Homo sapiens: one gene and its partners. The gene in region 1 interacts genetically with each later gene. Each region holds a gene or a part of one and is shown on either strand. Other genes may lie near its edges.

The links.
Region 2: changes in CERT1 (region 1) and PTAR1 are lethal when combined (synthetic lethality), as found in Homo sapiens cells (one study listed by BioGRID).
Region 3: changes in CERT1 (region 1) and HAPSTR1 together harm fitness less than expected from each alone (positive genetic interaction), as found in Homo sapiens cells (one large-scale study listed by BioGRID).

What each region holds. Positions count from the first base shown.
Region 1 is NC_000005.10:75,505,021-75,508,674, reverse strand, and holds part of CERT1 (ceramide transfer protein), read left to right. Parts: intron 1-2,558; coding exon 2,559-2,693; intron 2,694-3,654. UniProt on the Homo sapiens protein: Shelters ceramides and diacylglycerol lipids inside its START domain and mediates the intracellular trafficking of ceramides and diacylglycerol lipids in a non-vesicular manner.
Region 2 is NC_000009.12:69,728,939-69,732,592, reverse strand, and holds part of PTAR1 (protein prenyltransferase alpha subunit repeat-containing protein 1), read left to right. Parts: intron 1-240; coding exon 241-454; intron 455-3,654.
Region 3 is NC_000016.10:9,101,554-9,105,207, forward strand, and holds part of HAPSTR1 (HUWE1-associated protein modifying stress responses 1), read left to right. Parts: intron 1-1,430; coding exon 1,431-1,706; exon of another isoform or gene 1,707-3,654. UniProt on the Homo sapiens protein: Acts as a central player within a network of stress response pathways promoting cellular adaptability. The E3 ligase HUWE1 assists HAPSTR1 in controlling stress signaling and in turn, HUWE1 feeds back to promote the degradation of HAPSTR1.

The DNA of each region.
Region 1 (3,654 bases):
TTGAGTTTGTGTCTGCTGGCCTGTTGGCCACAGTAATATTTGATTCCCCTGCAGTGTCTAGCATATTGCCTTATCTGTATTTGTTAAATGGGGAAGAGTGAGGGAACATTATGAGAGCAGAGAAAAGACAAAAAACTTGTCTTCCAGGTGTCATGATACAGCTAATACTTACTGAGTAAAGGGTCCTGAAGCTGATACAGTTTGTTCAGTCTCTTATAAGAACTAATATTAAGTTATGGATACATAATTGCTGGGGCTTCTCCTCTAACATTGAAAGAGTTCTATTCTAGTGAGAAATGCTGAAGGTTAAGCTTCATTAGCTATGTATAACTCTTCCTCAGATTCAGAAAATACTATGTCCAGGCACTGTTCTAAGTCTATTCTTGTTTAAACTTAACTCTAAGAGAATTTGACAAAGAAAAAAAGAACACAAAGAGAATAAGTAACTTGACCACTGTCACAAAGTTTAGCCTTATGAAGTGTGGTAATTGTAAATGAGGTAGGATTAATCCATGAAGGGTCTTGAATGCCCTAAACAATTTGTATGACAGTCAGTGGGAAGTTGTCCATGTAAGTTTTGGAGCTAGAGACTCAATACGATCAATGTAAGAAAAGTAGGCAAATATGCTTAGTAAGTAAATAAGCTTGTGTAAATTATGAAAAAAACAGAAGATACTAGAGAAAAAATTATTAAGTCTCCTAAGGAATACAGGAACTGGATAATTTGATTGGAATAGTTGAAAATGAGAAGAGGAGGCAAATTTAAGGGTTTACTATGAAGGAAAGATGAGCAGCTTTTGGTAATGGGCTATAAATATTGAGAAGGAACACTTAGGTATTGAGTATCTTCTGTGACTATGCTAGGCATTTTCATTATTTTATTCGGCCGTCAGTCAACAGGCAAAGAAACTGAAGTTTACAAAAGTAACTTGTCAAAACTCTCTTCACATGAGTTATAAAATAGTTGAGCCTATTTTATCCTATATCCACTAATCTGTTTGTATATCTAATACACTAACTCTGAGCAGAAGTAGCAGTCTCCCCAAGGAAGTAGGAAAATAGGAAGGAAGTATACTTTATAGGAAGGTGAATTCAGTTTTATTGGTAACTATCATTTATTTCAAGCCCGTGTCTAAGTGGTGGTACATCTCAAGCAGTTAGAAATAAGGAAATGGTGATTGGGAGCCACTAGAATGAGTTAAATGTTGGCTTGGGTGAGTTCTCAGAGAGTGGTTGTAATGATGGGGCTTAGAAAAATTAAGAACTGGCTAGGGATGGTGGCTCACCTGTAGTCCCAGCACTTTGGGAGACCAAGGAAGACAGATCGCTTGAGCCCAGGAGTTTGAGACGAGCCTTGGCACCATAGCGAAACCTCATTTCTACAAAAAATTAGCCAGATGTGGGGGTGCACACCTGTAGTCTCAATCACTTGGGAGGCTGAGGTGGGAGGATTGAGCCCAGGAGATTGCGGTAAACTGAGATGGTGCCACTGCACTCCATCCTGGGTGACAGAGCGAGACCCTGTCTCAAGAAAATACTAAATAAAAGAAAATTTAAGAAGTGAATCAATCTCAAAAATGCTTAATTAGAGAACAGAAAAATAAAAGATTTCTCAGTGGATATAGAGCCTGAGCCAATGCAGTATATTTTGGCAATCCATTTTTAATTAGTTTTTGGAATTGGCAGATAGTTTTTGAGATTTTTCTATACTTAACACCCCAGAGCATAGATAAAAACATGCAAAAATAAGTATTCCTGTAAAGGTTACATTTCTGCCTTTTCCAGTTTATTGTGATCTTCACTTTGCAGCAAGACTTTAGCAACACAGAAACTCTTAAGGTATTGAAGACAATCCAATATGTTTTTGAAAAGCAATTTTATTTTTGTTTTATTACTCTTGAGTTTGAAAAATGCATGTTCAGAGGAACTTGGAAAATGTATTGGCCATTTTTAATATTATTCAGTTCTGTAGAGGAAAAGTTAAAGTTGATGCCAGCTTACTAAAGATTATTATTTTTATTTTGATATAGTTACAGCTGTTATAAATTTTCATATAGGAATAACAACAAAAGTAGAGTTTAGCAATAATTGACTTTATACTTCCGTTGATTTAGAAGGCTTCATGCAGTCTTTGGTGTCAGAATGAGAGACTACATACATAACTGAACATACTTCTCTGTTGAATATGTTAATTATGACAAGGACCAAAACAAATATCATGAAGGTACTTAGGAGAGGATGAAAGCATACGAAGAATAAACAATAATTTTAACCAAAATCTGGCTTTCGTTTTATTCTTCAAATGTTAGAAGAAAATGTTATATTTTATTTCTTACAGATTTATTTATAATATTGTAAAAATTACTGAAAATCATTATGCAATCTAGAAAATCTCAACTTTTCACTTTTTGTAATCATTTTACTGTTTATGCTTAGAATTAAGTTGGACTTTTCACGTTTTGGTTTTAAAATTAGATTGCTGTTTCACAAAGTTTGGATTTCTAAAATACTTCTATTTTTTGTTTTCTTCTCTCTTCCCTTCCCCTTCCCACTCCCAGTGGACAAACTACATTCATGGGTGGCAGGATCGTTGGGTAGTTTTGAAAAATAATGCTCTGAGTTACTACAAATCTGAAGATGAAACAGAGTATGGCTGCAGAGGATCCATCTGTCTTAGCAAGGCTGTCATCACAGTAAGTTCCTTTTCTTCTTCATTCAACAAATATTTATTGAGTGTCAGCTACATACCAGGAACTGTTCTACGTGTTCAGGATACATCCGTGGATAAGATAAAGATCCTTGTCCTTGTAGAATATACATTCTAATACTTTTTTCCATAAAGTGATTTTACTGTGGTTTTTACTACATATTGTTATTTTGCATAGACATGTAGTTTTTATCTGGTGGGTATATCAAACCAGTTTAAGGGCTTCAGGAAAAAAAAATGTTTGAAGCCTTTTTATTTGTTGAGGCTGGGACAGTTACTTTGTAGGTTACTGAATATTTAAAAATAATACATCTTGTAAGTAACATTCTAAAATTTTAACTTAAAAATATAAATGTAAATTCATTTTTAAACTTTTTAACATTGAGCTAATGCCATCTCTTTGTGGAGTTGGGAGAAGCTGTTCTCATGTTCCTCACACATGATTTGCTATTTACAGTTTTGATTTCTCTAATGTGGAATAAAAGCCTGAAGATAACTTTTGAAAAACTCTAAGTATAGGCTCCTTCTAACTTTTTATGATTTCCCCTTATATTTTGCAGTTACATCACTTTTCTCCAATTCAACACCCTTTAAAAGAATAACTCACCTTCGTTGAGTCATTCTACTTAGTTTACATTTTGTTGTTCTTTTTTTGTTTTTTTGTTTTGTTTTGTTTTGTTTTTGAGACAGTCTTGCTCTGTCACCCAGGCTGGAGTGCAGTTCTGTGGTCTCAGCTCACTGCAACCTCGACCTCCCAGGTTCAAGCAATTCTTCTGCTTCAGCCTCCCAAGTAGCTGGGACTATAGCCACGTGCCATCACGCCCGGCTAATTTTTGTATTTTTAGTAGAAATGGGGTTTCACTGTGTTGGCCAGGCTGGTCTCAAACTCCTGACCTCAAGTGATCCACCCACCTCAGCCTCCCAAAGTGCTGGGATTACAGGCATGA
Region 2 (3,654 bases), on another chromosome or scaffold:
TTTTAAAGTTTTTTTTTTTTCCTGTTTATCCATTTTCCACCCTTCATCCATACTGCTAAATTAGTATCATCATAAACAACAAAACAACCCCTCCCCATCTCCAAAATACTAGACTTATAAACAGGTATTATTTTGCATTGTCTCTGAATGGAAATTAAATTAGGAACAATGAAAACTGGTTATTTTTCTCTCTGGTTTATGTTCTTTCTGTGTTCTCTTTCCCACATGCTGCCTTAACAGGCGATGGGTGCTACAACAGCTAATTCAGGAAACCTCCTTGCCTTCCTTTGTGACCAAAGGAAACTTGGGAACAATTCCCACAGAAAGGGCACAGCGACTCATACAAGAAGAGATGGAGGTCTGTGGTGAAGCAGCAGGGAGATACCCAAGCAACTATAATGCTTGGTCCCATCGCATCTGGGTTTTACAGCACTTGGCCAAGCTAGATGTCAAGGTAGGAATATTACTGTCTCCTGGGCAGACTGCCTGTCTGCCCTTAAAATCTTCTGGTAGTAGTTCATTCTCAGAAGAGCTTTGAAGGAGTAGAGAAACTGATGGTCTGGCAACTTGAGAGAATCGCAACAGCTGCTACCTCTGGAGGAACCCTGTAATTAAATAAAAAGCTTGCATTCCCCACTAGTGCTGTTTTTGGCAGTCTTAAGGCTAGTGCATTGGTAAAGCAAGGCAGGTTTAACCAACTGAGGAAGATTGAGCATAACTCACTTTATCCTGAAACAGGAAGGGATTATTAAGCCTTATAGAACTGGAATTGCTATTTCTTGGTAGTGTTTGGTTATGTGACAATATACTAAGTCAGCTGGCTGTCTTTTCACACTCTCGTCCTCTGAAAAGGGGGAGAGGAGGGCAGGGATAGACAATCTCACCCAGGTGTTTTTAAAATTGGCTGAGCCTATAAATTACCTGGGGATTCCTAAGTTCCACTCCAAGCCTACTAAAGCAGAATGAGGGTGGATCTAGAGATCAGTATTTTCCACTGACTCAGGGTTATTTGAATGCAGAGCCAGTTTGGAAACTCTCACAGCCTAATCCTTTCAGTTTAGAAATGAGGAGATGGAGATTTCCAGAGAATTTTAATGGCTTAGACTTAGCTACAGTTGTACCACTTATTATTCATCAGAATGAGAGCCACATGTCCCTTTTGCTCCTTATATACTACGGTGTCTCAGTTTTTTCTTTTCTGATGGCGTCACAGTGCCATAAGAATCTAGGGTGCTCATCTAAAAAGCTTCTCAGGCTTGAGACAGTTAAAAGAGGTCAAGTTGAAGATTGAAGTGCCCCAGGTGATGCTTTCAGATAAGTGGGGAAGTGTTATGTAATTTTAACTTACCACCCTCTTCTTCCTACATCCCTCTTCCCATGCTCCCATTTCTCTCTTTGTTTCCTGGCCAGGGCAAATGGGAGACTTTTTACTTCCAGAGGATTTTAAGCCAATAATTCTGGAAGAGAAGCCTTCCCCATTCAGTTTACATGGCTTTGAGTTTCAGGAGGGGTGGCCGCCTAATGGAATAGAAAGAACCAAGGCTCAGAATCACATCAACCTAGGTTCAGATTTTGGCCCCACTACCTATATGTGGAAAGCAAGGTTTTATTGTTTTCATTTATAAAATAGGGACTCTACTGTCTGCCTCAGTGGATTATTGTGAGAGTTAATTGAGTTAATGGATGTAAATTACTGGGCATCTAATAGAGAGAGATTCACTCGATTTTAGTTCCTTTCTCTGTTCTCCAGAGATAGAAAATTGGCTACCAGTTTGCTTGATCAACTCCGTGCAATTTATTGATGAAAAAGTATAAAACCCTATCATACCCACCGACTGTCCTGTATACGCAGTAAAACAAAGTGTTTGCTCTCAACAAATTGAAAATCTAGTTGAGAAAGTAGACCAACAATTACAAAGCATCAGAATACAATGGGAGCACAGAAAAATCGTTCTTCATCTAGGATGCGCTCGTTGGAAATAGCTGCCGGGGGAAGGAAGATACATTGAGTTGGGAGGCATGATTACAAGTTGTTTGGTGGGTTGTCAGGGATATGGAGTGCTTGGTGGTCATCTCAGATCCATGACTTGATAGTGTGTGGGAAGAGGAAAGAGATATGGGGAGGATTGGGGATAAAAAGGAAGGCGGAGTCCAGGTTGACTGAGAGATCTTTGGAAATTTTTCTGCCATGATGTGGACCTTTACAAGTGGCATTTCCATAAAATCAGGAACAAGGGGCCAAAGTGAAATTTTTGGTTACTTGAGACCATCTGGTGGTAAAGATAACTCATTAATGGTGAGTTATAACTCATTAATGGTGAGCTCAGCTGCCAGGGTCCACTCCTGGGTTCAGATGTCATCATCCTTCCTTGACCCGCCCTTGGAGGAAGACTTACCATTCTTCCATTCACCACTTGCCACTGCAACATCTCTTGCTCTTGTTGTCAGTGAGGAGTCCTAAATTTGCAAAATCCCCTTTCTGTTGTTATAAGCCATTGGGCCCACCTAGAACATTTACTACTATGCTTTGTCTGTTACAGGAGGTAATCACAAAAATACCAGTAGTCTAAATCAGCTTAAAAATATATATGAAATGAGCCAGCATTTTTTAACTTAGGAAATTGAAAATGACTTTTTAAAGTGCTGGCATCGAGTATTAGTAAGAGTATGAAAATGAGCATTATTCAAATTGTTATAAGCTTACTGAAGGGCAACATGGCAGCACTTATCACACTTTTAAAAATAGGGTGTTATTTTTAAGAGTTCTGCTTCCAGGAATTCATCATAAAGAAATAATGGAAGATGAAGTATGGTAGAATGATTAGAAGCTTCACTCAGTGGTCATGCAGACCTGCTTTGCATTCTGGCTTTACCACCAATTTGCTGTGTAGCCTTGAGGAAGTTGCTTAGCCTCTTCAACCTTCAGTTTTCTCATCCGGAAAAGGAGGGTGACAATAATTCCCATCTCACTGAGTGATGCAAATTGAAAGGGAGGATTCATATAAAGTGGCTATCAAAGTGCCTTAATTAAGTGCTCAATAAACACTGGCTATTAAATATAGAAGTTTGATATATAAAAGTAGCATTTATAGTAGTGAAAAACTAGAAAAGCTGTAGCCCTTCAATAATGAGGGAATTGTTAGATTACAATCCATCACATTGGAATATTTTGTTATGACTAAAATGTATATTTTGGAAGATGATTTAAAGGAAAATATTCACAATAGGTTATATTAGGGTAGGCCTAATATTATTATTTATTTATTTATTTTTGAGACAGGGTTTTGCTCTGTCGCCCAGGCTGGAGTGCAGTGGCACAATCTCAGCTCACTGCAACCTCCGCTTCCCAGGTTCAAGCGATTCTCCTGCCTCAGCCTCCCAAGTAGCTGGGATTACAGGCACCCACTACCACGCCCAGCTAATTTTTATATTTTTAGTAGAGACGGGGTTTCGCCATGTTGGTCAGGCTGGTCTTGAACTCCTGACCTCAAGCAATCCACCTGCCTCTGCCTCCCAAAGTGCTGGGATTACAGGCATGAGCCACCACACCCAGCAGCCTAATATAATTTTTAATGTATTTATTAGCATTGAATGAGACAGCAAATACTTTAAAGTGTTTGAAACAGTGCTTGGCACATGGTAAATGCTGAACAG
Region 3 (3,654 bases), on another chromosome or scaffold:
TACTTTGATTATTTTTTTAAGAGAAAAGATCTGTGGACAATATCCTTGTTTTTCTTTGTCTTTAGCAATAAAGACTGTCATCTGCTTAAGAGTAGGCCTTATTATAAAGTTCTGGTTGTTGTGCTTCCCTCTTGCCATTTTCTTTAATAGTGCAAATTCAGCTTGGCATCCTCTGTGATGTCTGGATGATTTTTTTTTTTTTTTTCTGGAACATAGCTTTACATTGTTTGACTATTGCCCATCCTTTGAGAGTCTGCTGTAGATGTAGCAGACAAGAAATTAAAGCCGCCGGTTGCAGTGGCTCACGCCTGTAATCCCCAGCACTTTGGGAGGCTGAGGCAGGCGGATCACAAGGTCAGGAGTTGAAGACCAGCCTGACCAATATGGTGAAACCCGGTCTCTACTAAAAATAGAAAAATTAGCCAGGCATGGTGGCGTGCGCCTGTAATCCCAGCTACTCAGGAGGCTGAAGCAGGAGAACCCTGGAGGCGGAGGTTGCAGTGAGCTGAGATCGAGCCATCGCACTACAGCCTGGGCAACAGAGAGACTCCGTCTCAAAAAATAAAATAAAACGAAATAATCAAAGCCGGGAAAAGTAATAGAGAAATGTACACAGTATTGTTGCTTTTACGGAAAGTTCAAGGATAAAGTAACGATGTTGGTTAATGCCATTAAAGACATACTGGTGATGTTCTGCTGGCACAGCAGCTCAATTAAAACTAAATAATAGTCACTTAAATTTTCAAATTTTTTTTCAACTAAATGAAACCACTAAAAGGTAGAGATCATTTTACCAAAACCCAGGTGGAGTATATGCAGAGAATTTAGTCTAGGAGATCTGTTGGGAATGGTTGAGTTACAGGAAGCTGTTGAGAACTGGAAGCAAAATGAGTATACCCAGGGAAATGAATAAAGCTTTTTGTTTTCCACCATGCTATTTGGTTTTAGTGTTGAGCCATCAGTCAGAATTAATTTTTCCTTCTAAAACATTTGCTGCTGCCTTCAGCTTGTTCCTCATTCTTGGTGCTGAATCTGTCAGTAGGAATGTATCTCCACAATGACGTGGTAAATGCAGATGAGCGTGGCCTGAGGCATGTGCAATATTTAGACATCTGTTGAATGATGTGATGCAAGTTATTTTAGGTAATTTCATTAAAGATACCTAATCTCTCTGTTTCTGTTAAATTTTTTTTTTTAACAAGCCAAGCTCCAGGACTGTGATAAGTAAACACTGAATTTAGACCATTAAGATTAAATGTTACATATAACATTTTCATTATGACTGAAATCATTTCAGTTTATATTACTGATGGGCTCAGAGGCCACATCATGGTATTCACTTTGGTTAAATTGTAAAATGGTTTTCTTTAGAAGGGAATACGGGCTCTAATGGTCATGATACATGTTTTCTTTTTCTTTTTTTCTAACAGAAAGCGTGGATACCCATCAACGAAGTTTTGATATTGGAATTCAGATTGGCTATCAGCGACGCAATAAGGATGTGTTGGCTTGGGTTAAAAAACGCAGAAGAACTATTCGTCGAGAAGATTTGATCAGCTTCCTGTGTGGAAAAGTTCCTCCACCACGAAACTCTAGAGCTCCCCCAAGACTGACTGTAGTGTCCCCTAACCGAGCTACTTCAACGGAAACTAGCTCATCTGTAGAGACTGATTTGCAACCCTTCCGGGAAGCCATAGCTCTGCATGGTAAAGCCGTTTAAACATATTTCTTTGGAAAAATGGTTAAGAGGGTGCCTGTGGACCCATTTTTCACGGTTAGGTTTAGGTCCAGATATACTGTTTTTTGTCTTACAGTAAACAGCTTGCTCTAGAAATGTTTAATAGAATGTAAGCTAAGAACTTAATATGGGCGATTTCTGTCAGCTAACCTATCCTAGAAAATGTTTTTAGAAAGTTAGTTTGAGCTTATTGGTGTTAAAATGACATATCTTTCTGCAGTGTTGATTAGAATTTATCGCTTTACACTTATGTGTTGTACGTGTTTTTTTCCTCTTCTGAAGTCAAAGAGGAAGTTCTTGTGTCTTAAGAATTCTGTTATATTTCTAATGGTCCATGACAGGCAAGTAAGGTGGGAAATTGTTGGGTTAGTTCTCATGGGACCTGGGACCTCCCTTGACACCTTTCTTACTTGGTTTGCTGTAGATGGTGGGAGAGGATGGATGTAAGACTTGACCTTCTGCCTGTCGTCCCTCAGGTCCCTTGCACTTTAAGAGGCAGGACCAGCAGAGTGCAGCCAGTGGGCAGGTGGATCTCTATCTCCCCAGGCCAGACCTGTCATAAGAAGGCACTCTTGGCTAAGGGATTTTAGTATTGCTGGAGAAACCCGGGAAATGTAGTCAGTGATAAGTCTGTTGTTGCTTGTTGCTGTCTAATACAGACTTCCAAATAGAGCTGGGAGAGTTAACCTGTGTGACAGCATTGAATACTGCTGTAGGAAAAAAAGCAACAGAATAATAAGACTTGCTTGAAACCATGATGGAAAGATGGATCACGCAGATGGCTAAGCAGGTAGAAGTAATTAGGTCATGAATCCTTTTTTTCTTTTTTTTTTTTTTTTGGAGACGGAGTTTCGCTCTTGTGGCCCAGGCTGGAGTGCATTGGCGCGATATTGGCTCACCGCGACCTCTACCTCTGGGTTCAAGCGATTCTCCTGCCTCAGCCTCCCGAGTAGCTGGGATTACAGGCATGTGCCACCACGCCGGCTAATTTTTTAGAGACAGGGTTTCACCGTGTTGGTCAGGCTGGTCTCGAACTCCCAACCTCAGGTGATCCGCCCACCTTGGCCTCCCAAAGTGTTGGGATTACAGGTGTGAGCCACTGCGCCTGGCCATGAGTCTTGTTGAAAGTTAACATTTTTGGGCCATAGTACAGGTCATCTAAAACAAAGTAACCTGGTAAGGTACTAAGAAATAGTGGCATATAAAGAAACTTTATAGACGTTGAATCATTGAGACTTTATAATACCTGTAGAGATCTTGTTCTCTCTGGCAAACCGTAGTTCTTTCCTGAAACCCCAATGTTGTTTTTTCCCTTGATAGTGTTTAGGACAATTAAAAACAAAAACATGAATTGCAGGAAAGTTCAGGTTGTGTGGATGCAGTACTTTAAGACTGCACACTGTTCCTGACACAGTGGAATAGTTAGGCTGTCAGAACTTTGGAAGCTCAGGCAAAAATGGGATTGATCTGTTTATGCTGAATTAGAGAGTTTCACATCTTTCCCCCTAAAGTTTGGGAAAACAATTAACTAGAGGTGTACATAGTTTGTTAGATTAATTTTAGCGCATGGTAATATTTGATGCAGTTGTCTCTCCTTAAGTATTGTGATTTTCTTCCTTTATTAAGAGGGTTGTGGGTCATTCCATGCTTCTCTTAAGGTATCTTTTTACTCTGTTTTACTGTTATATTTTAGAAGATAGTTTTAAGAAACATAAAAACCATGCTTGTTATCTTAACGTAGTAGTAGTGTACATAATAGTAAAAAGGGCAAGCCAGCCCCCTCTGCCCTCGAAAAACTGTATTCTCCAACTCCCACTACATTTTCTCATATTGAATCTGTTCCACCTGTGATTTATTGTTTTCCTGAACTTTGGGAGTTTTAAGCAATGATACAGTTGAAGGGACTGTTTATAATT